Homo sapiens: one gene and its partners. The protein of the gene in region 1 interacts with the protein of each later gene in a pairwise test. Each region holds a gene or a part of one and is shown on either strand. Other genes may lie near its edges. The genes, in order: CLK3, OAS2 and SAG.

The links.
Region 2: the proteins of CLK3 (region 1) and OAS2 interact in binary tests that used the Homo sapiens proteins (3 or more experiments, as listed by UniProt).
Region 3: the proteins of CLK3 (region 1) and SAG interact in binary tests that used the Homo sapiens proteins (3 or more experiments, as listed by UniProt).

The regions. Positions count from the first base shown.
Region 1 is NC_000015.10:74,622,979-74,632,369, forward strand, and holds the end of CLK3 (dual specificity protein kinase CLK3), read left to right. Parts: intron 1-1,923; coding exon 1,924-2,040; intron 2,041-2,823; coding exon 2,824-2,990; intron 2,991-4,373; coding exon 4,374-4,468; intron 4,469-4,560; coding exon 4,561-4,690; intron 4,691-4,991; coding exon 4,992-5,074; intron 5,075-5,625; coding exon 5,626-5,705; intron 5,706-5,963; coding exon 5,964-6,054; intron 6,055-6,728; coding exon 6,729-6,905; 3' UTR 6,906-7,223; downstream 7,224-9,391. UniProt on the Homo sapiens protein: Dual specificity kinase acting on both serine/threonine and tyrosine-containing substrates. Phosphorylates serine- and arginine-rich (SR) proteins of the spliceosomal complex.
Region 2 is NC_000012.12:113,000,916-113,012,440, reverse strand, and holds the end of OAS2 (2'-5'-oligoadenylate synthase 2), read right to left. Parts: intron 9,510-11,525; coding exon 9,339-9,509; intron 7,508-9,338; coding exon 7,219-7,507; intron 6,029-7,218; coding exon 5,841-6,028; intron 4,737-5,840; coding exon 4,498-4,736; intron 3,355-4,497; coding exon 3,186-3,354; 3' UTR 2,068-3,185; coding exon of another isoform or gene 1,957-2,067; 3' UTR 718-1,956; downstream 1-717.
Region 3 is NC_000002.12:233,308,357-233,319,881, forward strand, and holds part of SAG (S-arrestin), read left to right. Parts: intron 1-805; 5' UTR 806-833; coding exon 834-908; intron 909-7,718; coding exon 7,719-7,779; intron 7,780-10,394; coding exon 10,395-10,439; intron 10,440-11,181; exon of another isoform or gene 11,182-11,525. UniProt on the Homo sapiens protein: Binds to photoactivated, phosphorylated RHO and terminates RHO signaling via G-proteins by competing with G-proteins for the same binding site on RHO. May play a role in preventing light-dependent degeneration of retinal photoreceptor cells.

The DNA of each region.
Region 1 (9,391 bases):
GTCTGCCTGAGAGGCTGTGCAGATCTCAGTCGAGAGAAACATGACCCTGGGCTTTCTCACCAAGCAGGCTGCTGCCTTCTTCAGTGTGACTAGGGTAGTGTGTGGTCTCCGCTGAGTGTGCCTGGGAGAGTGGGGTATACCTGTGTGTGTCATGCTGCACCTCACTCTCTCCCAAGCCCAACAGTACAATAGTTTTTTCCCCTTACCATTCCACAAGACTAGAACATTTGCTTCCTCTCCTATAGGTCTGGGTTGGGGAGGCCACCTCCAGGGAGCCAGTTGCCACCCTGCCATAGGCTCTCTAGTTGGTTTGGCACTTCAGCTACAAAGTGCTTGTGTCCTCATTGGAGCCACATGCCACCCATATGTGGCCCTCTCGCTATTTCAGAGATGAATAAACATGCTCAGGGTTTGCCTGCATCATACTCCAGTTAACAGCAGAGCTGGCCACCACTGCGCTGTAGTGCTCCTACATTAAATGGGGTGTTCAGGTCATTCAGACCCAGGCGTCCAGCCTTTCCTGTGGCCACGAGATAGACTGAGAGGAAGTGTCCATTTGCTCCAAGTTCCTATGTAAATGCCTGTACGACTCAGCGTGGCCCAAGAGGTTAGGGTTGGGACCAGTGGGTGGAGGGACATGCACAACCACACCGTGGCCAGGTGGAGACATGGCAGACTCAACAGCCGGGATGCATGTAGGCATTCTGGGCTGCTCCTCTCTCAGGAGCTGGAGGGAAAATGAGCCTCTGGAGTCACTAGGGGGCAGGTGGAGGGTCCAGGGAAACTTTACGGGACTCAAAGGGAGCCAGGGCCAGTGGGGGTTGTCATGCAGAGGCAGAATTCAGCTCAGCGAAAGGCAGGGTCTTATTCTAAGAGCAGTGCAACTCTGACAGGGGCTGCCTTGGAAGTGATGAGCTCCCTGTGCTGAGGACTGGAATGCCACGGAGGGACCCTGTTTTAGGAGGAGGCCGGAGTGCATGGCCTTTCCCCTGAGGTCCCTTCCTGCCCTGAGAATCTGGGAAAATAGGTAGGGAGAAAAAAGCAGGGGATTCTCTAGAAGGTCCCTTTATCCTGGGCCTGTGAGCCTTAGGCACCACAGTCAGCCTCCCTGAGGCCTCAGAGGACACGCCCTTCCAGGCTAGGACTGTCTCGTTCCCCACTGGGCATCTGAATTCTAGCTGTCCTTTCCTGACAGGGCCTGGCAGTTGAGCCTCAGCAGGTTTCCTTCTCTGCTGGCTCCCTGCAGATGGCCTCCTGGGGTGAGGTTGGGGGTGGGAGGCACAGAGCAGGGACTGTTAAAACCTTCTTTGGACACTTAAGAAGGGTTCCTGGCATTTTGTGGTCACTGATAAACACTGTGGCAGGTAGGTGCGGCTGGAGAGGGGTGTGGTAAAGGGAGTGGCCCTGGGCCTCACAGTGAGAGGTACCCTTGCTGGTACCCCTACCTCTTGCCAGATCTTTACTCGATCCTGGAACCCCCATCCCTGTTTGCTCAGACTTGCAGACAAGCTCAGGAAGGTCAAGAGGCGCCGCAGGAGGGTTCTCGGTGGGACAGCCTGGCCAGGGTTGGGGCTGCCTGGCCTATAGGTTAGGTCACTGTGTGAGCTCTTGGACTGGCACTGGTTAAGCAGGATTGGCCTCTACTCTCCCACACTCCTTTGGGAGCTGGCAGTGGCTGAGAACATAAAAGCCTAAGGATGGCAAGGATGCTAAGAGCATTAACTCACAGATCTCAGGGAGCTTGCTGTTGGGTGGGCAAAGGTCTGGTGTTGCATGGGGCAGGCTGGGCATCCAGTATCTGCTCTCTTCAGTGCCGGCTGCTCCTGGAGTGGTGTTTGTTGGGAGTTGCTGGGTTGGGGTGGAGGGTTGGGGAAGGACTGGGCAGCTGCTGATGAGAACCTCTGTTTCCTTCCCGGGTACCAGAGGGAAGTCTCAGGTTGCCCTGAAGATCATCCGCAACGTGGGCAAGTACCGGGAGGCTGCCCGGCTAGAAATCAACGTGCTCAAAAAAATCAAGGAGAAGGACAAAGAAAACAAGTTGTGAGTATCTGCAAGGAGTGGGAGGGAAGCCTTCAGTGGGGCTGCTGGACCCCCAGGGGCTTAGTAGTGTGCCTTCACCCATCCGCACTGTGCCTTCTCCCCACACTCAGAACCAGGGGAGTGTGGCAAAGGTCTTGCTGGAAGCCTTTAGACTGCAGTCCAGTCTTCACCCCAGCTGTCTCTGTGTCCTGAGGAAGGCCTCCCAGCCCTGCGTTTTGTGAATTGGGGAGCTCACTGGGTTATGCTGGGCATAAAACAAGATAAAAACATGAAGTTGGGGCTCTCACATAGTAGGAGATACCCAAAGGAGGGCCTTTCTGTGGCAGACACACTGAGCACTCTCCTCCACGCACTGTGCTGAGCCTGGGCAGATGGGTGAATCCAGCACAGACCCTCACGAAGCTCAGCAGAGTGAGCAAGTGGAGAAAAGCAGCACCAGTCCTGCGGAGTGCACTAGCACTTTCCATCTCTCCCTCAGCAACTCTGAGGCAGGGCTGCTTCCATATCATAAGTAGGGAAGCTCGGAGGGCTTGGACCAGAACCGTGGACATCTCCCCTACCCCCCGCAGGAAGCTTAGTCCTTGCCCAGAGCTCATCTGGGTATTGGGTGATGGCTGGTGGGGAGAGGTGCTCTTGCTCTGATTTCTCTTGCACTGTGTGTATCTGCATTCTGGTGTGTGACCCGGTGGCCTAGGAGAGAGTTGGGAACTGTCTTCATCTGAGAGAGGGGGTGAGGCAGGCCCCCAGCACACAGCCTGAGCCCTGCCCATCCTCCTCCTCCAGCCTGTGTGTCTTGATGTCTGACTGGTTCAACTTCCACGGTCACATGTGCATCGCCTTTGAGCTCCTGGGCAAGAACACCTTTGAGTTCCTGAAGGAGAATAACTTCCAGCCTTACCCCCTACCACATGTCCGGCACATGGCCTACCAGCTCTGCCACGCCCTTAGATGTAAGTGTCCACCCTCAAAAGAAGCATGGGCAGCCACATGCCTGCAGCCAAGTCATCTGGTTACTTGTTGTCCCCATTCATTCCAGCACGTTACTAACCATTCTCCTGGGCCTGAGGGACACCAGATCCCCTTTGGCGGAAAGGCCTGTCTTTGGGTGGGAATCTCAGTGTGAGGATGGAAAGGCTAGGGCTCCCTCCAGGGACCTCCTGGACCAGCCTCTCTACCCCCAGGCACTCAGGAAGAAAACAGAAACGAACTGCTCTGGAATTGGCCTAACCACCAACCCTGCCTCCCTGCTTCATGCATGGGATAAAAAGGTAGAAGCCTGACCTGACAGATAGCACCACAGGTCCTGCCCACATGGAGACCCTCGGTCTAACCCTGACTTGTCATCTCCCTGCCAGCCTGGAAAAGCATTATTTGGCAGTGCCAGGGCTCAGCGCAGTAGGATTTGCAATGGTTGCAGCAGTACAGAAAGGCTCCTTGGTGAAGTTGGTAGGCGTTGAGCTAGAATCGCTCAAGGTCACCCCGCATCGCTCCCCTACCCTGAGCACTGCTACTGTGATAGGCTGCAGGCCACTGGGGTGGGAAGCCCCACATGGATGAGAAGACAGGTGTCTTCCTCCTCCCACAGGATCTGCAAGATGGGACAGGGACAAGGATTCCAAGCAAGGGGAACAGCTTGGTGAGGCCTGGAGCCTGTTAACGGGCTGAGAATTGGCTCCAGTGGAGTAGACTGCCACTGGGGAGTGGTGGGCCACATAGTTGTGAGGGTCTTGAGTGCCAGATGGGATCCTTGAGCTGAAAAGTGACTACTAGCAAGAAGCCACTGTCAGAAGGGGCTGGAGGGGAAAGGCTTGCCTGCTTATGACTAGCAATGAGAGGCGGGGCTGTCTTCCTGGGTATGCGACCTGTGCACTCAGTCGCACAGGACCCTGTGCTTGATTTAATGTCCTTTTGCCACCACCTTAATATTCTTAGTAACTTGAACAGGGGACCTGCATTTTCATTTTGCAAAGGGCCCTGCAAATTATGTAGCTGGTGCAGGGAAGAGGGAACCACCTCGAGGCTGTTGCTGTAGCTCTGCTGAGAGACAGGTGAGGAGGCCTGGTCTCTGCAGAGGAGAGGTGGAGGGAGGTTTTTCGAATGGCAAATTTCTTTCCTACCCCCCTGCTAAAGTATCAGAACCCTCCAAGGCCTCAAGTACAGAGAACCCTTGAGAGGGAGGCCAGCACAGAGGCAGGCTGTAGTCCAGCTCCCTGCTGAGGTGGGGGTGTGAGGACCTCTGGCAGTTGCTGGCATTGGAAGAGGGGTCTGGCCTAGAGCTGGCAGGAGAGCCAGCTTCTCAGTGCCTACTTCCCCTTCTTTCCCTGCTACCTTAGTTCTGCATGAGAATCAGCTGACCCATACAGACTTGAAACCAGAGAACATCCTGTTTGTGAATTCTGAGTTTGAAACCCTCTACAATGAGCACAAGGTATTGGTGGGGGTAAGGGTGAGGCCCTGTTTCAGGGGTGGGTTACCCGCTGGTGCAGACTCCTGACCTGGCAGGCCTGCCTTGCCTTTCAGAGCTGTGAGGAGAAGTCAGTGAAGAACACCAGCATCCGAGTGGCTGACTTTGGCAGTGCCACATTTGACCATGAGCACCACACCACCATTGTGGCCACCCGTCACTATCGCCCGCCTGAGGTGATCCTTGGTGAGTGACTGTATGGCCTGTGACCTTGTCATACTGGACTGTTGTTGGGAGGGTATGAGCAGAGGCAGTGGCATGCCTGTCATTCTCTGCCACCCAGGGCAGGCAGAGTTTCTCAGACCAAGGGGCCAGTGTCATGAGACACAGGTGACTGACCTGGCTTTATCTGTCAGCCTTACTGAGAGAGGGCCTCGTACTGGGATTTGGGCAAGAGTCCTGCCAGCCGGTGTGGTGGCTGCCTTGTGACTTCCAGGCTGGAAGCATAAGGCCGGATCTCACAGCCTCTCCCCATCTTGGCTTGCAGAGCTGGGCTGGGCACAGCCCTGTGACGTCTGGAGCATTGGCTGCATTCTCTTTGAGTACTACCGGGGCTTCACACTCTTCCAGGTACAGCCACCCTGCATTGGTCCCCTACCCTGAGTACTGCTACTGTGATAGGCTGCAGGCCACTGGGGTGGGAAGCCCCACATGGATGAGAAGACAGGTGTCTTCCTCCTCCCACTAATCATCATGTGAGATTCAGACCCTTTAAGGATGTAGATGCTAAAGGGAAGGCAGAGGTCAGGGTAGCTGGAACACTCAGAGGAGTCTTATGCTAGGCCATCGAGGATGGAGGATGGGGTAGGAGGTGACCTGACCTTCTAGATAAGGGGCACAGATGACTAAAGGCATCGGGATGGGCTGGGACAGGGCATGTTCTGGGCAGGGAGTGAAGAGCTAACCAGAGAGAAATGTAGTCACAGCCCAGTCCACCTCCACCCACAAGGGCTGAGGAGCCTAGGCACAGGCTGGCAGGAGAAGCTGGGGCTGCCGCTTCATTGGTAGGTTTGCATGTCCTGGGGCAGTGAGGGCACTTGCCCATCTTTCTTGTTCCTTTTTCTCCTTGAAGGGGCCAGAGCTAGTACTGACCCCCTTGCACTGTCCCTAATCTTCCACAGACCCACGAAAACCGAGAGCACCTGGTGATGATGGAGAAGATCCTAGGGCCCATCCCATCACACATGATCCACCGTACCAGGTAAGGACCCCAGTAGCCCCCTCAGGGTTGGTATAGAGGCCTTTCTCTTCTTGGCTGTGGGTCAGCAGGGTACTGGATGTGGTGAGTCTTTGCTGGACAGTCCATGGTTCCGCAGGCTCCTAAAAGCCTTCCCTGTGTGCCCCTGCAGACCTGTTGCCCTGGTTCTGCTGCTGTCTTGGGAGCTGCTCTTCCCCACCTCCCACCAGAGGCTTGTCCCCTTACTACTCCCACACTTGACTCCACCCCCTTAATTTTCAGGAAGCAGAAATATTTCTACAAAGGGGGCCTAGTTTGGGATGAGAACAGCTCTGACGGCCGGTATGTGAAGGAGAACTGCAAACCTCTGAAGGTCAGTTTCTGGCTACCCCCAGCTGAACTCATGCCAAGGAGAGACCCCAGGCACTGGGCAGACATACAGCAGAGACAGGCCAGGCCGCTAAAGGCTGCCTCCTTGATCCAGCTCTATGGGAGGCGGCACCCAAGACTGCTGGGTGCTGGCAATGGGGCTTCTTGCAAACTGCCCCAGAGGGGCCCTTAGCCCTACCCCTTCCCCATAGGGTGGCTATGAATGTAATTGGGGAACACCAGAAGAGCCAGATGTCAGAAGCCCTGCTGCTTCCTGTCCCTCTCTCTCCTCGAAATTTTGGGAAGAACTAGGCAGGACTGAGGTGAGGGGGAGGGAAGACCTAGACATGGCCAGGAAGCCTCTGTCAACTGCATTTGGTGCTCGGACAAGTGAATTTCGCAGAGGTGATCTCTACCCACCTGTCAGGACTTTGCATGTGGGGGCAGAGGCATCAACCCAGCAAGACACCTAGTAGCCTGGCAAGTTCCGAGCAAAACGTTAAACAGGCATGAAAGGAAAGGAGCTGCTCATTGTCCAGGAGGGCGGAAGTAGAGTCCTCCAAGGAGGCATCACTGCCTCCTCGATCCAGTCCAGCAAGGCGTCCCAGAGGCAAGGGGACCTGCTGTGGCTTCCCACGACCCTGCCGTCACACTGAGGCACCTTGTGTCCCTGAGCAGAGTTACATGCTCCAAGACTCCCTGGAGCACGTGCAGCTGTTTGACCTGATGAGGAGGATGTTAGAATTTGACCCTGCCCAGCGCATCACACTGGCCGAGGCCCTGCTGCACCCCTTCTTTGCTGGCCTGACCCCTGAGGAGCGGTCCTTCCACACCAGCCGCAACCCAAGCAGATGACAGGCACAGGCCACCGCATGAGGAGATGGAGGGCGGGACTGGGCCGCCCAGCCCCTTGACTCCAGCCTCGACCGCCAGGCCCCAGGCCAGAGCCACCCAATGAACAGTGCAATGTGAAGGAAGGCAGGAGCCTGCAGGGGAGCAGACTTGGTGCCCAGCTGCCAGAAAGCACAGATTTGACCCAAGCTATTTATATGTTATAAAGTTATAATAAAGTGTTTCTTACTGTTTGTAACCCCTGGTACCAGTGTGTCCATCTCCAGGCTCCTTGCCTTCCCCTTACCTGACCTTATTAATAAAGTCTTTCTTAGCAGTTCAGCTTGTGGAGAGCTAAGTGTGAACTGGGCCAGGCACAGAAGAGCTAGGCAGGGGTAAGACCAGAATTGGGGACATCCTCTGGGCCCAGGCTGCTGAGCAGTCCTAGATGGCACCTCTGCCCTGCTGGCTTCTGTACCTCTCAGCCCCAGAGAACCTAAGGGAATCAGCCCACCGTGGCTAGCCAGGTGGGGTCTGGTTTTCCACAGCCTGCCAGTCCCATTACTGGCCAGGACTTTAGGCTGTATGTGCCCAACAACTATGGCCTGCTGAGGGCAGGAGACGAGTGGGGCGGGTTCCTAGGCTGGGACAGACAGCACCTCATGACAGCCTACAGAGCAAGTCACACGGCACAGGACTCAGTCAGTCATTCAGCTTTATTTCAGTGCTGGTTTTTGGTTCCCTAAGAGCTGCATGAGTGCTAGGCTTCACCACGTGACTGGGGGCCCCTTGGGAACTGGGTACTATGGGCAGGATGCCCCTGAAAAGAACTGAAGACAGAGGAATCATACTTCTCTTTAATACCTCTGGGGAAGGCCCAGGCTAAGGATGAGGGCAGGGACCAGTCCCAGTGCCCCCTGGGGAGAGAAGAGGGAGAAGCTTGGGCACAAACTCCCAGTGGCCCTGCAAGGCTATCATCCCTGGATCTTGCTGGAGTGGACAGTCTTCTGGGCCAGGGTTGTTCTAGCTTGTTTCTCACTGTACCTAATCAGGGGGCCTAACTGCATTAACAGGCAGCCAGAACCTACCTACCAAAAAGCCTGTAACCTAGACTGCTCCTCAGATTTTGGCCAAGAGAGGGCCCCGGCTTGGGAGCTGCTTGGCCCTGAGAGTGAGCAGAGGCTCAGAGAATACACAGCACAAGGGTTACAGTCCCTGGCCTCTTCCCATCGCTGGAGACAATTTAAGACTGAAGGGAAGATGAGAGGAGGGGCCAGCCCTCTACCCTGGCTCATCTGCTTCTGGCTATGTTCCTACAAGGGAAGTGATAACAGCCTGAAACCCGTGGTACCAGGGCCTACCCTATGTCCACAATCCTTGGTGAGCCCTTCTGTCCACCCATCCACCCGCTCAGCCAGCCTGGGCAGACACAGAGCAGAAGCAGCCTGAAGCCCTGAAGCAGGCTTAAACACAAGTCCTTGACAGGAATCCCTGCCAGGATTCCAGGCATAGATCCTGTTCTACCAGCCTCCAGGGCCTAGAGCTTGGCACCTTAGGATTTGAGCATCAGTGTGTTCCTATGGTTGGAACCCACACCAGCTAGCTCATCCAGAACTAGCCTCATTTTGCCATCTTTGAGACAGGGTGCTGGCCCCAAGCCTACTCATCTAGACTGGACAAATGTAAAAGGTTCAAAGCCCAGATGATGTAAGAGCTGGGGTGGAGCTCAAGCACGGGAGCCCATCTGCCTGCTCTGGGATGACAGCTGCAAAGGACCGTTTCAGGGGAAGGGCAGAGGGGATGAAAGAGTAGGTGGGGCATGTATGTGCGGGCAAAGGGCTGGAGGAGTGGTGGCCTAGGACAGAAGCACCAGGAAGCCTCTTCTGGTTCAGCACCAGGCTCCCCCAGGGATATCCCCATCTGAGGGGTCTGGCCCCAGACTAGGCAAAGGCTCAACCTGCTCAGCTTTGAGGGTGGGGGCGGGCACTGCTGGCAAGATGGGCACTGTGGTTCTACAGTAATATAACCTTATACTACCTGTGCTGAAGACGACAGAACAACATAAAATCCCAATACAGTAACACCATCCTAATGCCGCCCCCTTCCCTACCTCTGAGTGATGGAGGGAAAAGGAGGGAGAGATCCTTGGAAAAATCAGCATAAAACTTGGATCAGCTCAGGAGTAAGGGTCAAAACCCCCCAAATCAACTTGTGGGGCTAGGGGAAGGCCTGGTCTGTCACAGCCCTGGACATGAATGGAGAGTGCAGGTCTGCCCTCTGGTGGACAGCTGCCGTGCAGCTGGTTCTACAGAGGAAGGGCTGTCTGCGTGGGGAAAGCAGGGGAGACACAAAGCCACAAGCTCTGAAATAGAGCAGGTACAGGCCCCCAGACAGGACCTGGCCCACTCTTCAATGTGTGTGCCCAGGCCCAGTGGCTGTAAACCTGAAACACAGTCTTGAGAGCTGCCTACGGCTGTAAACAAAGGCCCACCTGGCCGTGCAGGGGGCTG
Region 2 (11,525 bases), on another chromosome or scaffold:
GTAGAGGTGGAGTTTCATCATGTTGTCCAGGCTGGTCTCAAACTCTTAATCTCTAGTGATCTGTCTGCCTCGGCCTCCCAAAGTGCTGGGATTACTGGTGTGAGCCATCAAGCCTGGCCCTTCATTTTTCTTTAAGGGATTTAGGGCTATGTGTTCCAGTTCCTCCAGCCAAGCCCTGTGAGGATGGGGACAGCGTCTCACAGTTTCTGCTTCCGTGTTTCCTGCCTATGTATCTAGTGCAAGTTTGGGCATCCAGAAGGCCCTGGTAACTAGTTGTAGACTGAGTAGATGTGTACTTAAAGTGGTCATTCTTTCATTAAATGTTTTTTATCATTTAAAAAACTTTTTAAAAATTATTTTTGCCTTTTCTTCTCATGCTTGTTTCCTGTATTCTTCCATTTTTCAACATCTTCATATATATTTCTTTTGCCTGCATCCTGGACAAGAGTAGTGGTGCATTCCAACACCTAATCTGTGACACCAGCTGACTGTCCTGCAATTTAAGTCAAGTCTGGCACTGACTACCTGGAATGTGTGTAGATCCCACAATTTAAAGAGCAAGGTCCTCACCAAGTCCACCCTTCTTTCAGACTCCAGCCATACATGGGGTCCCCAGGCTACCCACACCTCTGTCCGACTTGGTTACAAACTTGGGAGTTTCCATGACTTTCCTTCAGTTTTGATAATTTGCAGAATGACTCATAGAACTCAGGAAAATGCTCTACTTACAATCACCATTTTATTATAAAGAATACAAATGAAGAGCCAGACAAAGAGTATGTAGGGTGGCAAGCACTGGAAGGGCCCAGAGCTCAGGAGCCTTTGTCCCTGTGGAATCAAGATGCGCTACCTTCCTAGTACATTGGAATGTCTGCCAATCAGGAAGCTCCCCAAGCCTCACTGTCCAGAGTTTTTATTGGGGTTTCTTTACATAGGCAGCATTGCTTAAATCACTGGCCATGTTAAAATTGAACTCAATTTCCAGCCCCATCACCTCCTTGGAGATTGGGGGTGGGATGGGGCTGAAAATTCCAATGCTTTAACCACATGCTTGGTCTTTCTGGCTTGGCCAACTCCTTCCTTGAAACTAAGGGCCCACCATGGGTAACCTTGTTAGCATAAACCCAGGCATGGGTGAAAAGGGCTTGTTATGAATACAAAAGACACTCCTATCAGGAAACTCTAGAATTTTTGAAGCTGTGTGCTAGGAACTAGGCACAAAATCCAGATACATTCTTTATTGTATCACAACTGGTATATGCAACAGTGATAAAAGTTTAAGTGAGGGTATGTGAGGTTAAAGCACCTAGACCTTCAAGTATCTTTAAGGCTAAAGCCCAAGGAAAAAGTCTTTTGATTTGGCAAGAGGATACTCCTGGGTGGGGGGGAGAAAGGCAGGCTCAGAAGGAAAAGACAACAGCCTCATATAAATATGACAACAGTTATAATCTGAGCCTTTGGAGAGCTTGAAGTTCTAATGAAAGGGTTGGCTGGCTGCTGGCATAGAGGATGTCTGTGTCAGCAGGGGCAGAAAGGGTTTTGTATACAGAGGAAACAGACAGGACGTGGATGAGTTGGAAGCACCGAGAGCAAGATCACAGAGTTATGAGAACCAAGGGGAAAGTAAAGAGCTTTGCTTTGAAGACACAGAGGATTCCTTTTTTAGACTGGAAGGAAAAAGGAGGAGCTAATTGGAAAAATACAAGAAAAAAAATACAAGTTGACAGAAATAAGATGCACATAAAGTGGATGACAGCAACTATTTTTAAAGGCAGGCTGCCTGCAGAGAGGGAGTTCAGCAAGGCAAGACTTTATGAAAGGGTTTGCAGTCTTGATTGATTTCAAGAAGTCCAAGAAGCAAGGGAAGGAGGAATAGGGACCATCAAGGGAAGAATGGATGTGAGTGACTCTTTCTCACGGTGAGCCGAGTCTTTAAAAGCGATTGCCAGATGATCTCTAGAAGTTTCTTTTAGAATTATTATTCAGGATTCTATGGCTTCTGGATGAGAACATCTCATTGACAATAGGATGGATCCTAGCTCCACAACTTCCTGGTGTCTGCATTGTCTAAAAAGAAAAACATACGTGGGAGAGCAATGTCTCCTAATAGTTACAATCATTGCTTAAAAGAGTTAGGGGAAAAAAGGGGGGACCTGTATCTGGGAAGGTAACTATTGCCAGAGACAATTTTTTGGTATTTATTTATAATGCATATCTTAATAATTAGAGCTAACCCCACGGTTGGCTTGGCCACCTCTTCCCTACATTCCCCCCAGGGTTGGGGTGTAGGGTTCCTCTAGTGCAAGGGTTCTCACCTAGGGCAGAAGACACATGATAAAGTCTCAAGACACTTTTAATTGTCACAACTGGGTGGCATCTACTGGGTACAGGCCAGAGATGCTGCTCAACATCCTACAATGCACAAGAGAGCCTCCAAACAAAGAACTGTCTAGCCCCAAATGTGAGTAAGTATCAAAGTTGAGAAATCCTGCTTTAAAGAAAGAACCTGGTGGAGAGAACCAAGTATATCTGGAGGGAGGATATCCTGGTGGAATATATCAGGTATATCTTGGTAGGTAGGGAGGGCTTTGGAGAGGTGTGGCAGACATCCTTGGGTGGCCAGTGCAACCCACGTCCACAGTCATCTTTGTAGCCACCTTCAAGTTACAGGTAGCCACATGACATTTCTGAGCAATGAAATGGAAGAAAATTTGCGGATGAAACTTCTAATAAAATCACTGTGTTCTTGACCTTTGGGTATCTTTTCCTTCTTCCTGCTTGGATTGCAAACCTGCCATCTGGAGGCACCGTGGCCGCTTTCAGGGCCATAAGTACTCAAATTAACAGCTAAAGAGGGTGGAGCCAAAAGCCAAAGGCAGAAAGATCTGTGAACCCAGGGGAACGTTTGACAATGTCTGAAGACTTTTGGTTGTCACTGGGAGAGGAGGGCTAGTGGCATCTACTGGGTAGAGACTAGGGATGCTGCGCAGCACCCTACAGTGCATGAATCTGGGGTTACCTGCCTGAGGATCACTTGTAGTGGGGGCTTAGGGGGCTGACCAGCTGTTTAAGCTCCTGTGAGCTGGGTTTCCTTTATTTGTGTCTGAGTTAATTTCAGGTTGCTACAGTAGGAGAAGTTCTTTGATTCAAGCCTGTTACAGGGCTATTTCCAGACAACGCCTCCTTTAGATGACTTTTACCGGCACTTTCCAAGGTGGTATTGGGTTTCCAGTCCCATCCTTGAAGCAGGGAGAGGATAACCATTCCTTTGCTTCTTTTGCCAGAAGATGCCAACACCAACGGTCCCCTCCACCCACGTCACCTGTGGGTTCGGCTGGGTCCAAGATCACAGGCCTGAATGAGAGGTTAGAAGGCATTAGGAGATTCCAAATCCCAGTGACTTCAGAATTTGGGGTCCATCCTATAATACTTTCAGCAATAAGACAATGTGTTCTTACAGCTTAGATGTCAGCAACTCAAATTTACTAGTAGGGTTCAAAGTAACTTTCTAGAGGCCGCGTGCAGTGGCTCATGCCTGTAATCCCAGCACTTTGGGAGGCTGAAGTGGGAGGATCACTTGAGGGCCAGGAGTTCGAGAACATCCTGGCCAACATGCAGAAACCCCATCTCTACTAAAAATACAAAAATTAGCTGGGCGTGGTGGTGCGCACCTGTAGTCCCAGCTACTTCGGAGGCTGAGGCAGGAGAACCAGCTTGAACCCGGGAGGCAGAGGTTGCAGTGAGCTGAGATTGTGCCACTGCACTCCAGCCTGGGTGACAGAGTGAGGCTCTGTCTCAAAAACAAAAACAAAAGCCAAAACCAAAGCAACTTCCTAGAATTAAATTGTATTTGCCAAAAGCGTTTTGAAAGCTGTTAATTGCTATACTCATGAAGGCATAATGAAGGCATAGTCTAAATATCTCCTCCTTGCTATGTCAGCTAAAATATGATACATAATTTAATCAAATACAATGTTGCCAAGAACCCAGGGTAGGCAACCCACCGGGGGTCTCCTTCTCTCTTACTTCTCCTCTATTCTTTTTCAACGCTCCTTTATTTTCTCTCTTTCCTTTCCTCTGGTTTCCATTGTTTTTGTCCCTTGCTGGTGGCCCTAAGCAGATGGATATGATTTCTTACTATTCTTGAAGGTCTGAAAGAGTAGATAAACCCTAACCCAATAAAAACCCTGCAGGATAAATCGGCCCGTGAATGATAGCGTTAATTCTTAGGGACACACTTCCAACTCTAACACCTCTTAGATGAAAGCAGCTCAGGGACGTGGTATCTTGAACCTTCCTTCTCTATTTTTTCTGAACAGCATTTTCTCCTGCCCCTGCTAGGTTTTATCCCTGGAGACTGTGACAGGTTCTGTTGGCTAGCACTTTCCCCCGTCATGCAAGGAATGAATCGTGACCCCAGCAGAGGAAAATCCAGGTTGCTGAGACAGTGTTCAAGGGAATCAGGTTAAGAAAAGTACGGGGCTAGGGTGAAGGCACCTGGTTTTCTGCAACTGGCTCAGTAGAAACTTCCTCACGGTCTCATCTTCAAAGTTGTAATTGACCTTCCAGAAGATGCAGAGCTGCTGATATTGTGTGACCAGCTCCAGGACTGTCCGGAAACCTTCTGCAGTGTCAAAATCCGGCACTCCACTCCCCTGCTCCCAGGCATAGATGGTGAGCAGCTCCAAGGCATACTTTGGGGGCAAAGACCCCTTTGGCTTCAGTTTCCTTTCACACTAGGTAAGAGTGGGAACATCAGACGAACTGGTTAGCCTAGGAGCTCAGTGAGAGCCGCACAGGGACCACAGCAAGGCAACTGAGTCACAGTGTCGTGCTGGTGTGCTCACACTCTGCAGCTTGGATGTCTAAATTGTACAGCCTACAGGAGTCCACCTGGCAGCAGCACATTTGAGTTTCTTTGTTGTGCTTTTGACCATATATGCCTTCCTAGGACAATAACATAGCTACAGTTTACTAGAAACCCACTGCATGCCAGCTATGGGCCCAGGCATTTACCCACATCATTCCTAATCTTCCCCACAATGCAGGCAGCATGACCTGCATTTTAGATGAAGACTTTGAAGCTGCGGGAAGTGGAGTGACTCACTCAAGGTCACGCCACAGCCCCAAGTCTTCTGACACGCCATGCCAGCTCTCTGATTTTCTGGGATGAAAACTACAGAGTTTGGTCTTGGTTTCACATTTCAGGGAGCTGGACACAGAAAGGAGGCATCTCAGGAAGAGCTGATATCGTGCTTGATGTTTACTGTCATGAGGATGTTCAGAAGCTACTTTGTGTGCAAGTGAGGGGAAACTGGGTAGAGACTAGGGATGCTGCTCAGCACCCTACAGTGCATGAATCTGGGGTTACCTGCCTGAGGATCACTTGTAGTAGGGGCTCAGGGGCTGACCAGTTGTTCAAGCTCCTGTGAGCTGGGTGTATAGAAAATGCAGCCCCGGTTCCACCTACAGCTTCAACCTGCCTTCTGAGAGAGAGCATGTGCGCCGGGAAGCAGAAAAGTCCTATTGGCAATGTGTGGGCATGTGAATCCCAGCTTCCACCCACCCTCTGTAGGCAAGGTCACTTGGATTCCTGCAGAATTCTTTGGCCAGTGTGAGGGCAAAGTAAACCACATGTAGCAGCTTTGATGGGCAGAAGCCATCAACGCCTGACCCAAATGAATAGGGTTAGTGATGGGAACGTCGTAAAGATATCCAGTGGGCAGATTCTCCAAAGTGGCTCAGCCCTCAGCATGGGAGATTGTGGGCAACAGGGCTTAATGTTCATGGCTTACTGGTAAAAATAATAACCCCATGGTCAGAACAAAGACTGTCCTTACCTCTTTGTACCAGTGCTTCACCAGGCGAATTAAATCCTTTAGTTTGGTGGGCCGGGAGCGAATGAAGTTTCGCTGCAGGACTGTGAAACAGGTAGAAAACTCTCCTCCCGGGAGGTCCGAGGATTTATACAGATCAATGAGCCCTGCATAAACCTCGGGGCTGGGTGTGGAGCCAGAACTCAGCTGACCTGGCATGAGGGAGAGATTGACATCCTGCTTTAATACACATAGTAAGTAACAGATTCCAAAACATTTTTGACAAATATGATTTAATTCTTGGAAATTACTGTGAATAGTATTAGCATATTTAAAAGACTGATGTCTAAGACACAGGGAGCATCTCCAGAATAATGAGATATGTAAAAATTATGTGGTCTACACAGGTGCAGCTGGTATTATTAAAGTATTATCTAGACTTAAACTAACAGAGCAGCCACCAGCAATGTGGCCATTTGCACTCACATTCATTAAAGGGAATGAAAATTAAAAATTTAGTTCCTCAGTTGCTGTAGCCACATGTCAAGCTCTCAGTAGTTGTAGAACCCAGACATAGAACATTTTCATGATCACAGAAAGATCTCTGGGACGACACTGATCTGGACTTTGTGAACTACCGCCCCCTGGGCTAAATCTGGTGCGCTGCTTCTTGTTTTTTTTTTTTTTTTTTTTTTTTTTTTTTTTTGTTGTTGTTGTTGTTTTTTGCTTTTTTGAGACAGAGTTTTGCTCTGTTGCCCCAGACTGGAGTGCAGTGGCATGATCACAGCTCACTGCAGCCTCCATCTCCTGGGCTCAAGCAATCCTCCCACCTCAGCCTCCTGGGTATCTGGGACTACAGGCGTGTGCCACCATGCCTGGCTAACTTTGTTTATTATTTATTTATTTATTTATTTATTTATTTTTGGGATGAAGTCTCACTATGTTGCCCAGGCTGGTCTCGAACTCCTGGATCAAGCAATCTTCCCGCCTCGGCCTCCCAAGATACTGGGATTACAGGTGTGAGCCTCTATGCCCAGCCCAACTGCTTGTTTTGTTTGTGTGTTTGTTTGTTTGTTTTCAGACGGAGTCTCACTCTGTTACCCAGGCTGGAGTGCAGTGGCACGATCTCGCACTGCAACCTCCACCTCCCGGGTTCAAGCAATTCTCCTGCCTCAGTCTCCCTGATTACTGGGATTATAGGCACACAGCCCCATGCTTGGAAAAGAGAAATGGGACCAAAATTGTCTACAAGTGTGAAGTATTACTGCCATGACTAATGCCACTTGCTGGGGCCAGGGACCCATGAGTGGCACATGTTTTCAGAGCCCGTAATCAAGTCACGTGGCTCTCCCTCCACCTTCTGTCCACCATCACTTCCAAGCTAAGGTCTGGGGAGCCTTACCCAGTGCATTAAAGGCAGGAAGCACATCAAAGCTGACACTTTCGTTGAGGACTTTGGATTTCAGAGAGAAGCTCAGCACCCTGGGAGCCTTCCACTTGGGAGGCTCAAAGCTGACTTCAAGCTCCTCCTCCTTCTCCCTCCAAAAGGCTTTCAGCTGTTCATGGATTTCCTTGACGATTTTGTGCCGCTCGTTTTTTTGGGAGGTGTAGCTTTTAAGTGAGTTATGGAACACGACGAGATCGGCATCAGAGCCAGTCTTCAGAGCTGTGCCTTTGGCGGTTGATCCTCCCTAAGGAAGAAAGGAAGGTTGAGATCCAGAATTTCCTTAACCGAGGAGTCCCGTGCCCCCGTGGGCTGGCACCAGTTGGGCTAACTGACACTGTTTCCAAGGCCAAGTTCTGCGTTAGGGTTCAGTGAGGGCTGAGTCCAAAGCAAAGGGTTTTCTTTTACAAACTAATAGATAATGCAGTTATTAAACAATACAGTTCCCAAGGCAATTATTCTCCTGCCTTTTATACATGAACAACTGATGGGCTAGTTACAAGTTACCTGCTTCTCAGGTCAATTTCCTAAAGATTTTCCTAAAGACATATTTAGCTTTATTTGGATTCCTGTAACCAAATAAATCGAGCGGAATGCAATAATTATGGTGAAGGTGCTCATCTGTTCTTTGATGTGTGTTTTCTCCTGCAGGTCTGGCGATCATTGGGTGAATATCCATAATTGAGGTACAGGGTTGGTAAACTTTCTGCAAAAGGGCCAGATAGTAGGTATTTTAGGCTTTGTGGGCTATTTATGTCTCTGCCATTAAGGCTTCTCCCTTCCCTCCCTCCTCCTCTTCCTCCTCTTTCTCCTCCATTTAGTTTCTGTAGAGAAAAATGTTTTATTTTATCCATGGGTATTAAATGCCTGATTACATGGGTTAAGGAGGTGAGGAAAGGGTATGTTCTATTTCCTGTATGCAGATCCTCAATTCATCCCTGTTCCAGCCCCCTTCATTCATGCAGGCCACCTTTGTCTTTAAGAGGTGGGCTTCGGCGGCTCCTCTCAGACTGTAGCCCCTTCCTTACAATCTCTAGGTGTCACCTTCCTCTGGCCTAAGCAGAGAAACCTTCAACCAACTTCAGGAAGATGGAAAGCAATGTCTTATCTGCCGATGGCTCTCTTTTCTTCTTTGATGTGTCATATACCTTTTATTTTTCACTGACTATCATGTGAATGGGGTTTCAGGAAGGAGAGGAGAAAGCACATGCTTTGACAATTCTAACACTGATCAGAAACTCAGTCCTGTTTTCACTCCAGTGACCTTCAATGAGACAGTTCACTCATTGCCCTGGGGCTATTGGTGCCATTTCCCAGGCCCCTCTTCTCTAGTTGCACAGATTTGTTCTGGCATCAACGCAGAAATTTACGCGTACATAATAACATTTTCCTCCTTCCCTTCTTGTGACCACGGGGACACGTTTATCTGGTCGTGTGACCAGTAAACAGAGAGAAACATGTCAGCCCCGTGGCCTTTGAGCCACGGACAAGAATGACAAAAGCCTCTAAATCTCTAGCTCAGCTGATGGGGCAAGCCGGGCTCCAGTCACTCAAAGGAGAAGGAGATTCTAAGCTCCTTAGAATCTGCAGTGGGTTCAATGGTGGACCCCTAAAAATACATGCTCTGGGGGCCTGTGGATGTGCCCTTATTTGGAAAAAGGGTCTTCGCAGATGTAACTGAGTTAAGGACCTGGAGATGAGATCATTCTGGATCAGGCTGGGCCCTAAATCCTATGACAAGTGTTCTTAGAAAAGAAGAGAAGGGGGAGGACACAGAAGAAAAGGTGATGACAGAGGCAGAGACGGGAGTGATGTGTCTCCAGGCCCAAGAGCCCCAAGGACGGCCAACAGCTCCAAGAAAAACAATACAGAATCAAAGTTGTGTTGTTAATGACCTAGGCAGTCTATCCACAACCCCCCTGAAAACTAGTGTCCTAGTTCCCTTAACTCCTGGCTTCCCTTCCTCAAGTTTCTGAAGGTAGATGGATCCTGGAGAGCTACAATGCCCACTTACCTCCCTTCCAGGAATGCCCAATATTACATCATTCCAACAAGACATGAGAAAGGCCAGTGCTCACCCGGACAATCTGGATCTTGGCTGTTGATTGTCGGAAGCAGTTTTCTTTAAGGAATGTACGGATGATGTTAACAGCACTGTCAATCTGCTCTAGGAAGCATTTGTTGGGCTGGAGAAACTCCTTGATGAACTTATCCAGAAGGTGGCCTGGGGTCGTGAAGAGTGGTGCAGGCTGGGGAAGGAAGGAAGACCCCAAGTGTGAGTGGCACCTGTAAGCCCACCCAAGGCTTCTTTTCCTGCCTGTACTGGGCCCCCTACCCTGCCTCTCCCAACTGCCCTCCTGCTCGTGGGCTGGCATCTTTTCCGTCTTTTGTCATTGCACAAATACATCCCAAGAACACACCTGAGAGTTTGGAGTGGCACACAAGACCCCCCACAGACACAAAAACTGTCCTAGTTGCCCCTCCTTCCCCCTAGGAGAGATCTGGATCCTTGTCCAGACAGATCTGTCGTGTTCCTAACTCCAAACTCCTTTTCCATGCCCAGTTGGAGCATCACTTCCTAATGACCTGTGGCTTTTTGCTTTACCTACACCTCTGGTCCTTCCCTGTCTTCCCATTTGCTGTAGGTATTGGAGATTGCTGATGACCACATCCATTCCTTTCTTAAGGTTGTATCAGCCTGCGTTAAACACGCCATGTGCGGGTGTGTTGGTTTCCAAAGGCTGCCATAACAAGTGACCACAACTAGGTGGCTTAAAACAACAGAAGTTTATTCTCTCCCAGTTCTGGAGGCCAACAGTTCAAAGTCCAGGTTTTGGCACAGCTGTGCTCCCTCTGAAGCACACGTGGTTAAGTCTCTAGAGATGGGAGGATTATTCTGCATTACCTGGTTTGGCCTGATGTTATCACAGGGGTCTTTTTCCTCTTAATTTTAATTTTTAATTGAATTAATTAATACATTTTTCTCCACTTTTACTTTAGGTTCAAGGAGGTACATGTGTGGGGTTTTACATGGGTAAATTGCATGTCGCTGAGGCTTGGTGTATGAATGATCCCATCACCTAGGTAGTGAGCATAGAACCCAACAGGTAGCCTTCCAACCCATGATTCTAACCCATGTTTTTTCAGAAATAGTGTCTCGCTCTGTCACCCAAGCTGGGGGGCAGTGGTGCCATTATAGCTCACTGCAGTCTCCAATTCCTGGGCTCAAGGGATCCTCCAGCCTCAGTCTCCTGAGTAGCTGGGACTACAGGTTTGTGCCACCACGCCTAGCTTTTTTTTTTTTTTTTTTTTTTTTTGTAGAGATGGGAGTCTCACTAGGTTCCCCAGGCTGGTCTCAAACTCTTGGTCTTAAGCAATCCTCCCACCTCAGCCTCTCAAAGTGCTGTAATTACAGGCGTGAGCCACTGTGCTTATAAGGACAAGGGTACTTATAAGATGGAGGCAGGAGGGTTAGAGTTGGAGTGTGGTGGTGTTGGAGTTAGAGTTAGGTGGTGTGATGTTGGAAGTAGAGAGAGAGGCTGGAAGATGCTATGCTATTGGCTTTGAAGATGGAGGAAGGGGCCATGAGCCAAGAAATTTGGACAACCTCAAGGAGCTTGAAAAGGTGAGGAAGCATATATATGTATATATATATATGTGTATATATATATGTGTATAGATGTGTATATATATGTGTATATATGTGTATATATGTATATATGTGTATATATGTATATATGTGTATATATATGTGCATATATGTGTATATATGTATATATGTGTATATATATGTGTATATGTGTGTGTGTATATATATGTATATATATATTTTTTGGTTGGTGCAAAAGTAATTTTGAGACAGGGTCTTGTTCTGTCACCCAGGCTGAATGCAGTGGCACAATCATGGCTCACTGCAACCTTGATCTCCCTTGCTCAAGTGATCGTCCTGCCTCAGCCTCCCAACTAGCTGGGACTACAGCTAATTTATTTATTTATTTTTGTAGAGACGGGGTATTGTTATGTTGCTCAGGCTGGTCTCAAACTCCTGTTCTCAAGTGATCCTCCCGCCTCAGCCTCCCAAAGTGTTGGGATTACAGGTGTGAGCCACTGTGCCTGGCTCAAATTCATGTGTTTTAAGCCACTAAGTTTAGGGCATTTTTTTAAAACAGCAGTAAGAGGCAAGTAATTACTGTTCTATACAAATATTGTACTTTTGCTGGCAACACAGACAAGATGGGCTAGCTCACCTGGAGGTGGGGAAGGGC
Region 3 (11,525 bases), on another chromosome or scaffold:
TACTCAGCTGGCTGAGGCAGGAGGATCACGAGCCCAGGAGTTCGAGGCTGCGGTGAGCTATGATTGTGGCACTGCCCTCCAGCCTGGGCAACAGAACGAGCTCCTATATCTTAAAAAAAAAAAAAACCTCAGAGTATGCTTAATTCTAGACCGCTAAGATGGCCTCTTAATTGTAAAACAGAGTGGCTATCTCTTAGTAGGAATTGCCAAATAGAACTTTTGGGATTTTAATATATTCTTTTTTTTTAAAAAAAGTGATAGGATCTTGCTATGTTGCCCAGGCCAGTCTCCAACTCCTGGTTTCAAATGATCCTCTCGCTTCAGCCTCCCAGAATGTTGAGATGACAGGTGTGAGCCACAGTGCCCGGCCATTAATATCTTCTTGAAAACAGTCTTTGCGAAGTGGTTATGTTGTGGTTTTCAGGAACTTTTCTGATTTATTCGCCATTAGACACAGTCACGATAGAACTTTAAATTCAACCTGGCTAAGTGTGATAACACCAAAGGTTAGTCAGAAAGTAAAACCTCATTGGAATCTAGCTAGACTCCCTGGCAAGGTGTACTGAGAAATGTTTGAAGCTTACCAAGAAAAATAAAATATTGAAAACACCCCAAAGCATGCTGCAGTAAAATACAAACTAAGCAAAGACTCACCGATGAAACTCGGATGTTGAAGCCGGTACAAGGGCATGGTGAGGACGCACAGGATCTCGTGAGTAGGTTTCATAACTAGGATGTTCTTGACTTGATATTTAGGATTGTCTTACCTTTCTCCAACCCTCTAACACCTGACCAACACCCCAAGGTGGTAGAAGTTGCCAGGGACAGATAACATGGCAGCCAGCGGGAAGACCAGCAAGTCCGAACCGAACCATGTTATCTTCAAGAAGATCTCCCGGGACAAATCGGTGAGTGGTGCACAAGTGAGTGATTTGATAGAAATTATTGTTTAAAAAAAATGGAGCTTTTTCAAGTACAGTGTAGTCATGATCAACATCAAAACTCTTTGAGGGCCAGGGCGCGGTGGCTCATGCCTGTAATCCCAGCACTTTGGGAGGCGGAGGCGGGATAACTTGAGGCCAGGAGTTCGAGACCAGCCTGGCCAACATGGCAAAACCCATCTCTACTAAAAATACAAAAATTAGCTGGGTATGGTGGCAGGCACCTGTAATCCCAGACTTGGGAGGCTGAGGCACAAGAATCACTTGAACCCAGGAGGTACAGGTTGCAGTGAGCCCAGATGGTGCCACTGCACTCTAGCCTGGGTAGCAGAGGGAGACTCTGTCTCAAATAAAAAACAAACAAACACTGTGAGGGCCAGGGAAGCTTTGTGTCTATTTTTGTCTCTGTCTAAGATGGATGATCACTGAGCTATAAATGAGTGAATGAACTGCAGAAATAGAGCTTCTCTTCAGTCTCATCAAGACTTTAGTCCTGTGTCCCTCAGTTTTCTCCGAATCCCTCAATCCCCACACTGTCACCCCCACCTCTGCATCTTTTCCTAGCCAGCCTTGAACCCTTGACTTACTATTTAAACACAGTTTTGTCAGTACCTGTGATGCCCTTGGCCTTTTGTCTATCTATTGTGTCACCTGCCTGGGTAAAACCCAGACAGTGATCAATGTGACTCCTTCTTCTCCGTGCACCTACCCCACCCGGGGGGTCTCAAGCCTCAGCTGGGCCCGCAGGGCCATTGGATAAGGGAAAATGCCCCAGTCTGCCCCCTTTCCACCACTCTCCAGGGGCACGTTAGATGCTCCAGGTGTGCCCATGAACTTCCTCGCATGGGAGAGGGTCCACCGTCCAGCCTCTGTGGATAGCTCCACTCGAAAGCTTCTTGTGGGCCAAAAATCTAGCTCAGCAACATCTAGTGCAAGCCACATATGTAATTTTAAATTTTCTAGTAGCCACATTTAAAAAGTAAGAAGAAACAGGTGAAATTCATTTTGATGTTATATTTTATTTCAGCCCACTATATCCAAAAAACTATCAGTTCAACTTGTAAATAATAATATAAGAATTATTGAAATCTGATGTGTATTTTATGTTTACAGAACATGTCAATTTGGAATGGCCATATTTCAGGTGTCCGGGAGCCACCTTAAGCAGTGGCTACCCTACTGGACAGGGTAGCTCGCCATCATTCTGGCTTTTTTTTTTTTTTTTTTTTTGAGACAGAGTCTCACTCTGTCACCGAGGCTGGAGTGCAGTGGCGTGATCTCAGCTCACTGCAACCTCTGCCTCCCAGGTTCAAGCAATTCTGCCTCGGCCTCCCTAGTAGCTGGGACTACAGGCATGTGCCACCGCGCCCAGCTAATTTTTGTATTTTTAGTAGAGACAGGGTTTCACCATGTTGGCCAAGCTGGTCTCGAACTCCTGACCTCAGGTGATCCGCCCATCTTGGCCTCCCCAAGTGCTGAGATTACAGGTGTGAGCCACCGCACCTGGCCCATTGTGGCTGACTTCTGAACCCGGTATGGGGTCCAAAGAACCTCCCCATCCTTACCGTGCCACCCAGGAGATCCGGCTTTGCCTGTGTGCTTTCTGCCTTCTCCTCTCCTAGTTAAGGAACTCGGTCATTTTAATCAAGTACTCTGATTCTTTCGTTCTCCAAGCCCTTTCCCAAGTTGTATCTTTCCAGTCCATTTTATCTCAACTTCTGGCTGAAGAGGAAACCACTCGTGTTGGTTTCCCACGTTGTTTTCCCCTTGCTCCTAGATTTTCCACCAAGAAATGTAGATGGTTTTTGTAGATAAGTCCTCACAGGTGGGAAAAGAGAATTCAATTCCTGTCTCATGTATTCAGATCATTTTGCCAGCGATGTCTGTGTGGCCCCAGGCATGGTGTGCCAGGGCTCTGAGCCCATTTCTCTGTGATTCTCCCGACGCTGCCCTCTTCTTTGACCTTCATCCTCCAGCAGGTGGCTAAATGACTGCCCCTGCTCCTGGCGTCTCACCCACACTTGACAACATCCAGAAGGAAGAGGCTGTGGTTTCCTGGGGTCTCTTGTAAGGGTCAGGAAATCTTTCCCAAGACTCTTCTCTCATATCTCATTGGCCAAAACTGGGTCACATGTCCACTGTAAACCAATCCCAAGCCAGAAGAATTAGATGATCGTAGTGAATCAGGCCAATCAAGAATCGTACCCTGGAGCCGGCCTCCTCTGAGCATACCGCCTGGTGGAAGATGGTGGTCCCTGAACAATAGTTGGCGGCTTTTATCCAGGAAGAAGGGGTGTGTGGCTGTTGGATGGGCCCCCGAAGGCTGGCTACAGTCTCACATCACCCACTTCTCTACCTGCCCCCATCCTGCCCCTGTCCTTCCTGTTGCAGTGGAAGGGGTAGTTTGCTCCCATCTGAGGTTCACCACCTCTTACACCCTGGGTTTCATGGTTGGCCACCTTCTCAGGGGCCTCAGTCATTGGTCTGGCTGTGTGTGCAGCCTCTCCTCTCTGCTAGTACTTTGTCTGAGCATAAAAATAAGTACCAGCCAGGCGCGGTGGTTTATGCCTGTAATCCCAGCACTTTGGGAGGCCAAGGCAGGTGGATCACCTGAGGTCAGGAGTTCGAGACCAGCCTGGCCAACATGGAGAAACCCTGTCTCTACTAAAAATACAAAAATTAGCCGGGCGTGGTGGTGCATGCCTGTAATCCCAGCTACTCGGGAGGCTGAGGCAGGAGAATCGCTTGAACCTGGGAGGTGGAGTTTGCAGTGAGCCGAGATCGCGCCATTGCACTCCAGCCTGGGCAACAAGAGCGAAACTCTGTCTCAAATAAATAAACAAATAAGTACCGACCTCATGCACCTTAAGAACAACCACCAACTACCCTCGACCCTATATCCTTTCTAGTTCTTCTTCCCTTGCAGCCAAACCTTTTGAAAGAGAAGAAACATGCCCTCTCTTCACCTGCCCTTGTCTCTCCCGTCCACTCTGCAGTCCCCCTCATCAGCTCCACAGTCAGGCTGCCTAACTGGTTCTCCCCTTGCCGATCCATTCTCCAGTTTGCTGCTGGCATGAGCTAAATCTCAGTGCTCCCTTCTATAAAATGGGCTGCATTCCTGTCTCATTGAGTTGCTGTGAGGATTAAGTGAAACCATGTGGTCAAAGTGCTTAGCTTGGCCCCTGATACATGATAAGCACTCGAAATGCTATTTAATTCTTCCAAAAGCTATTTCTCTATTTAGCTTTCCTAAATACTGTTTAATTCAAGTCTTTCATCCTGCTTAAAACGCTTCAACGTCTTCTGAGGTTCTTTAGGGCCACGTCCTATGAGACCATTTCAGCAGCAGCAGCCTGCATCCCCATTCAGTGGCATGGTGAAGCCATTGGCAGTTCCAGAAGCATTCTCGGGGCCCCGGGCTTCGTATACATTTTGCTCAGAGAGCATGCCCTCAACCGTCCCCTGTCCTCTGGCTATGCCATTTGTCCACCAGGTAGAGCCTCCTCTGAAAGCAAGAGCCTTCCCTCTCTCCTTCCCTCCTCAGTGCCCTCCCCTCAGGCTTCCTCCCCACCAGCCTTTGCCCTGGCATTTATTCCAGGGGCACAATTGCCAGTTCACTTGCTGGGCTCCCAACCAAAGAGCAGGGACCTTGGGGACCAAGGGGATGTCTTCTTCGGTTTTTATTTTCAGTAGCCAGCAGCTGCTGGGGCCTCTGTAACCGTGTGTGGGATAGATGAAAGCAGTATTTGCCTAATTGACAGGCGAAGTCTAGCAAAGGAGACAGGCTCCTGCAAGAGCACCCAGAACACAGTGTGCTGCACACTGAGGTGTGGTCGCAGGCCACATGCTCCCGGGGCACCAAAAGCCAGGGGGTGCTGGGCAAAGGGAGAGATGGGGACCGTGAGGTGTCCCCTGAAGCGTGGGTAGGATTTCCCCCAGGTGAAAGTGCAGCAGAAGGGCCTTCCTTACCGTGGAAACAATAGGAACAGAGGCACAAATCTGTGGTGTTTGGGGGAGCTGTGGCAGAGCCGCTGTGGCCAGAGCCCAGGGAAGAGTGGAGCTGTTAGAGAGGATGCTCTCAGGGTGGCCACGCACAAGGCGCTGGGGTTTATTCCACAGAGAAGGAGTGAGCAGCCAGTAGACACTGAGCAGCAGAATAGCGAGGTCATAGTTACCATTCCTGCAAGGCAGCCTCCAAATTGGTTGATTTGGGGAGAATTTTTTTTTTTTTGAGACAGGGTCTTACTCTGGAGACCAGTGAAGATCTCTTTACCCCCTTTGTGGGAGAGCAGGGTTGGAGTACAATGGTACGATCGTAGCTCACTGCAGCCTCAACCTCCTAGGCTCAAGTGATCCTCCTTCCTCAGCTTCCCAAGTAGTTGAGACTACAAGCAGGCACCACCTTGCCCGGGCTAATCTTTTTTTTTTTTTTTTTTTTTTTGAGAGATGGCAGGGGACAGAGGAGGGGGTATCACTTTGTTGCCCTGGCTTGAACTCCTGACTTCAGGTGATCCTTCCCACCTTGGTCTCTCAGTGTTGGGATTACAGGCATGAGCCACTGTACCTGGCCAGAGGAGAGTTTTTAAAAGGGGCTGTTTGCTAGGGTGTAGGCAGGTGTGAAAGAAATCACAAGAAATAGCCAGGTACAGTGGTGGCTCATGCCTGTAATCCCAGCACTCTGGAAGGCCGAGGTGGGTGGATTGCTTGAGCCCAGGAGTTTGAGACCAGCCTGGGCAACATGGCGAGACCCTGTCTCTACAAAAAAATATAAAAAATTAGCTGGGCATGGTGGCGTGCATCTGTAGTCCCAGCTACCTGGGAGGCTGAGGTGAGAGGATCACTTGATCCTGGGAAGCAGGGGTTGCAGTGAGCTGAGATAGTGCCACTGCACTCCAGCCTGGGCGACAGAATGAGACCTTGTCTCAAAAAAAAAAAAAAATTACAAGAAAGAGCTCCATGCGCCACACGGCAGTGACGAGCAGCTGGGTGCTGGCACCTCCCTGGGGTTAAGGGATGAGGGATCGCACAATTCTCAGAACCCCGAGGCCCTCAGGGCTACCTCCCAGGAACTGTGATCCCCACTAGAGGGCTGTGCCAGCCGCAGGCCCAGCCACCATGCAGGCAAGGTGGGGACAAACATCTGGCCCACCTTGCCCAGAAGCCAGAAGACCAGGGAATCTACTAGGGCAACACGCCCTGGTCAGCCCCGCAGGGTGGATCTTGAGGGCAAGGCCAAGACACCCACAGTGTTTAGGAAGCTGGGACTCGCTGCAGCAACCAGCAGGTAGCAGTGTGTGTCCCGGTCAGCCCGCTGCTCACAGGTGCCAGGCTTCCACACCACCCAGGCTAGTGAGGCCTCCCAAACATGCTTAGCGCTGGGAGTATAAGGTTTCCTACGGAATCTTCTCTGTAAACCAGGGTTCTAGTGGTATTTGCTGGAAGTCACTTCAGCATCATTCATGCGAGTAACCTAGAGGGCACAGGGCTACGCTTCGGGACATCTGATATGGGTGAAAGGGGAGCGTATAGGAGAGGACTTAATGCCAACAAAAATGATTTAGGCCGTTCCTGGAATTCAAAATATTCATTCGAAGAAGGGGGCCAGCCAAGGGGGCCACACTCAATGAAAGAGTGTACTCTCATTCATTGGTGCACTTGGCAAACACTGAATCCCTGTGTGTCCTAGACTCTGCAGTAGATGCTTAAAGATGTGCAGAGACTCCAGATTACTACCACCAAGCCACAGTCCTATGGATTAAAGTGCTGAGGGCTGGGAAACCCAACCCTGCTCTCCCATAAGTGGGTAGAGACCTTCGTTGCCAGGGGCAGGACAGGGCCAGGGCCTGTGGGCCCAGATGATGGCCATCCCCTTCCCACCCAGCTCCCTCAGTGCGTGGCTTTAGGTCTACCTGTGCAGTAGTTCACCTGGTGGGATTTCAGGGGCTTCTCCAGAACTCACACCTCTTTGCGTTGTCCAGAAGTTCTTTTTTTTTTTTTTTTTTTTTTTTTTTTTGAGACAGAGTCTTGCTCTGTCACCCAGGCTGGAGTGCAGTGGAACGATCTCTGCTCACTGCAACCTCCACCTCCTAGGCTCAAGCAACTCTCCTGCCTCAATCTCTCGAGTAGCTGGAATTACAGGCGTATACCATCATGCCCAGCTAATTTTTGTGTTTTTAGTAGAGACAGGGTTTCGTCATGTTGGCCAGGCTGGTCTCAAACTCCCGACCTCAGGTGATCCGCCCGCCTCAGCCTCCCAAAGTGCTGGGATTACAGGGGTGAGCCACCACACCCAGCCTGTCCAGAAGTTCTTGTGACAAAGAGGGGCTACCTTTCATTCCACAGCTGGAAATAAAAGATTTAACATGCAAATGGATGGCAAAAGTCTCATTTACATAATTTTCTTTCTTTCTTTTTTTTTTTTTTGAGACGGAGTCTCACTCTGTTGCCCAGGCTGGAGTGCAGTGGCGTGCTCTTGGCTCACTGCAACCTCCGCCTCCCAGGTTTAACTGATTCTCCTGCCTCAGCCTCTTGAGTAGCTGGGACTACAGGCGCGTGCCACCACGCCCAGCTAATTTTTATATTTTTTTTTAGTAGAGACAGGGTTTCACCATATTGGCCAGGCTCAAACTCCTGACCTCGTGATCCGCCCGCCTTGGCCTCCCAAAGTGCTAAGATTACAGGTGTGAGCCACCGCGCCCGGGCTGCTGCTGGTTTTTATCATGGATGCCTTAGCTTAGCATTCTTTGGCCCTTAGACCCACACCTGTTCTTCTTGCAGGTGACCATCTACCTGGGGAACAGAGACTACATAGACCATGTCAGCCAAGTCCAGCCTGTGGGTAAGTTGCTTGGAGAAAACTGTAATGCTGGTTTTCCTTTAAGTCACAGATAACCGCTCACTTTGTGTTTTTAAAAACTGGCCTTGCTAATAATCTAAATAAAGACATGCAAATTAAAACATCAGTGAGGCGCCACTGGCTGATTGGAAACAATTTTATTTATTTTTATTTTTATTTTTATTTTTATTTTTTTGAGATGGAGTTTCATTCTTGTTGGCCGGGCTGGAGTGCAGTGGCATGATCTTGGCTCACTGCAACCTCTGCCTCCTGGGTTCAAGTGATTCTTCTGCCTCAGCCTCCCAAATAGCTGGGATTACAGGAATGCATCACCACGCCCAGCTAATTTTGTATTTTTAGTAGAGATGGGGTTTCACCATGTTGGCCAGGCTGGTCTCAAACTCCTGACCTCAGGTGATCCGCCCGCCTCGGCCTCCCAAAGTGCTGGGATTACAGGCATGAGCCACTGTGTCCGGCTGGAAAGAATTTTAAAGAGTGTGAAGAGACAAAGGACTCATGTCTGGAATGTATGAAGAACGCTCAGAACTCAGCAGTACAAAAAGCAAGATCCTATGAGAAAATGGGGGAAAGACAGGAAGATACATTTCATCAAAGAAGATACATGAAGACAAGCAAGCACATGAAAACATCTTTGGTATCATTAGCCACTAGGGAAATACAGATTAAAGCTACAGTGAGAGCATATTATACACCTACCAAAATGGCTAAAATATTTTAGGTTGGTGCAAAAGTAATTGCAGTTTTTTGCCATTACTTTCAATGTAGTGGCGAGATCTTGGCTCACTGCAACCTCCACCTCCTGGGCCCAAGCGATCCTCCGACCTCAGCCTCCCAAGTAGCTGAGACTACAGGCATGTGCCACCACGCCTGGCTAATTTTTGTATTTTTTGCAGAGATGGAGTTTTGCCATGTTACCCAGGCTGGTCTTGAACTCCTGAGCTCAAGTGATCTGCCTGCCTTAGCCTCCCAAAGTGCTGAGATTACAGGCGTGAGCCACTGCACCCAGCAGCAGCTTCTTAAAACATGAAACACATACTTACCATATGACCCAACAGTTGCATCCCGGGCACTTATCTCAGAGAAATGAAAACTTGTGTCCTCACAAAAACCTATACATGATTGTTCACAGCAGCTTTATTTGTGGTAGCTCCAAACCGGAAAGAACCAAAATGTTTCTCAGAATGTCCCACGTCAGCTTCCTAGTTTTGATATTGTACTGTAATTATGGCAGATGGAACCATTGGGAGAAACTGGATGAAGGATACTAGGGACGTCTCTGTACTATCTTTGCAACTTCCTGTGAATCTATAATCATTTCAACACAAAACGTCTTTTAAAGAGTGTAGAAAAACTGGCAGTTTCAGACACTGGATATGCAAATGTGCCTTGGCAAAACACTTTCTGGAAGGTTATTTGGCAGCATGTTATCAAAAGCCAAATCCAATTCTATAATTTATTTTTAAAAAGTCATGGAGAGATATAAAGACATATGTATAAGGATGTTCATCACAATATTAATTACAATGGGAAAAATTGGAAACAACCTAGATGCCCTAACAATAGGAAGTGATTAAATAATTTATGGTACATCCATTCAATGGAGTAATACATAGCTATTAAAATGATTAGCACGTTTTCTCTATATGTGTGTGTGTGTATATATATACGTGTGTGTATAGATGTATGTATGTGAGTATGAATAGATGTTTGCAATGTATAATTGAGTGAGGAAAGCAGTTAGCTGAACAGTATGTACAATAGGATCTTTTTCTTTACTTAGTAAAAGCATTCGTATAATTAAGTTATATATGTCTGGAAAAAAATTTTTTTTGTCGGGGGTGTGGGACAGTGTCTCTATCACCCAGGCTGGAGTGCAGTGGCACAGTCACAGCTCACTGCAGCCTCAACCTCCCAGGTTTAGGAATTCCCCCTACCTCAGCCTCTCACATAGCTGGGACCACAGGCATGCACCACCGCACCTGGCCCATGCCCTGCTAACTTTTTTTCTTTTTTCTTTTTTGTATGTTTTGAGAAAAGGTCTGGCTCTATTACCCAGGCTGGAGTGCAGTGGCATGATCATGGCTCACTGCAGCCTTGACTTCCCGGGCTCAAGGGATCCTCCTGCCTCAGCCTCCTGAGTAGTTGGGACTACAGGCATGTACCACCACACCCAGCTAATTTTTTTTTTTTGTTTTTTTATAGAGACAGGCTCTCATTTTGTTACCCAGGCTGCTGGCTAATTTTTTTTAAAAACTTTTTGTAGAGACAAGGATCTCACTATGTTGCTCAGGCTGCTCTCGAACTCCTAGGCTCGAGCAGTCCTCCTGCCTTGGCCTCCCAAAGTACTGGGATTACAGGCATGGGCCACCACACCTGACCTGGAAAAATAAAATAAAAATCTGCACCAAGATCTTCACAATAGGTATTTTCAGGCAGTAGGAATTTGGATGACTTTTTTCCCTTTGCCTGACTTTTCTTTCTTTCTTATAATGAACATGGATTACATGTGTAATTAAAAACATGCGCAGTTTTTAAAGTAGGTGTCTGGTTTCTTTCATCTTCTCCACCCTCACTGCTCTCTCCCTCTTTTGCCTTAGATGGTGTCGTGTTGGTTGATCCTGATCTTGTGAAGGGAAAGAAAGGTGAGATGAAGCCCCTTGTCTCAGGCTGGTTTCTGGGCGGAGTGGACTGCTCTCTGGGCGGCTCTGGGAAGGGGCATTTACATGGAAGGAGAGACAGGAAGGCAGAGGCAGCGCTCTTGCACATGGAACCAGTGCCAGGCCCACTGACCCACACTCCTGTACCTAATTCACGTGACATAGGTCCTGTTGACACCAGAGCTCACTCGCTCAGCAAAGTCATTGTCCAGGGTGGCAGATAAGTAGATGGTAGACGGAGCCCAGGTCTGTGGCCCCCATTCCTGTTTGCTCGCCCCTGTTTCATGTACTTCTGTGCTAGGGGCAAACTCAGGAGGGTGCCTGGGGTGCCTAGGACTCAGGAGGACACAAGACCTTGAATGAATGAGGGGCGAGTGAGTGGGCAGTGTTTCTTCTGAGTCAGTGGCGAGGGGCAGTTACCGTTGGGGCTGACAGGCAAAATTCTCAACCAACACCAAAAAGGGGGAAATGATGCCTGCTGGGGGCAGGGGGAGTAAGACCCAGAATTTATTATGGTGCTTACTTCGATGGTTCTGAACCAGTGTCACGGCGCCCTTGAAGATTTCTGGCAGTTTTGATGTGTGTGGTAAGTAATTTGTTACTAATAACAGTTGCATAAACCAAATTAGAACAGATTCCAGCTATCCTTGTGATAATGTCACTGACTCAGTTCCATTCTAAATATGCCTTTTTGAGTGTTGCTACTGGCAACATCAAGGAATTGTTCAGAACCCTGGATGTGCCACTGGAATACGTCAGCTATGGGGCCATCAGCATTGAGGGGGCATGGCTGAAATGGGGCCCCAAACGGCCCCCTCTGTCCTCTCCACCTTCCTCCTGGGTGCCCTGCTCCTCTCTGGACCAGGAGGCATCTGGTTTGAGCCCCGAAAGCCCAAGTCCTTGACCAGAGAAGGGCGCCTGTTCTCAGGGAAAGCCACTGCACAGGACAGCTGTCAAACCACGTGGTCTCTGGGCACCTTCTTAGTCCTGAGCTTGAATGAGGGGCGAGTGAGTGGCCACTGTTTCTTCTGAGTCAGCAGCGAAGGGCAGTTACCTTTGGGGCTTGCAGGC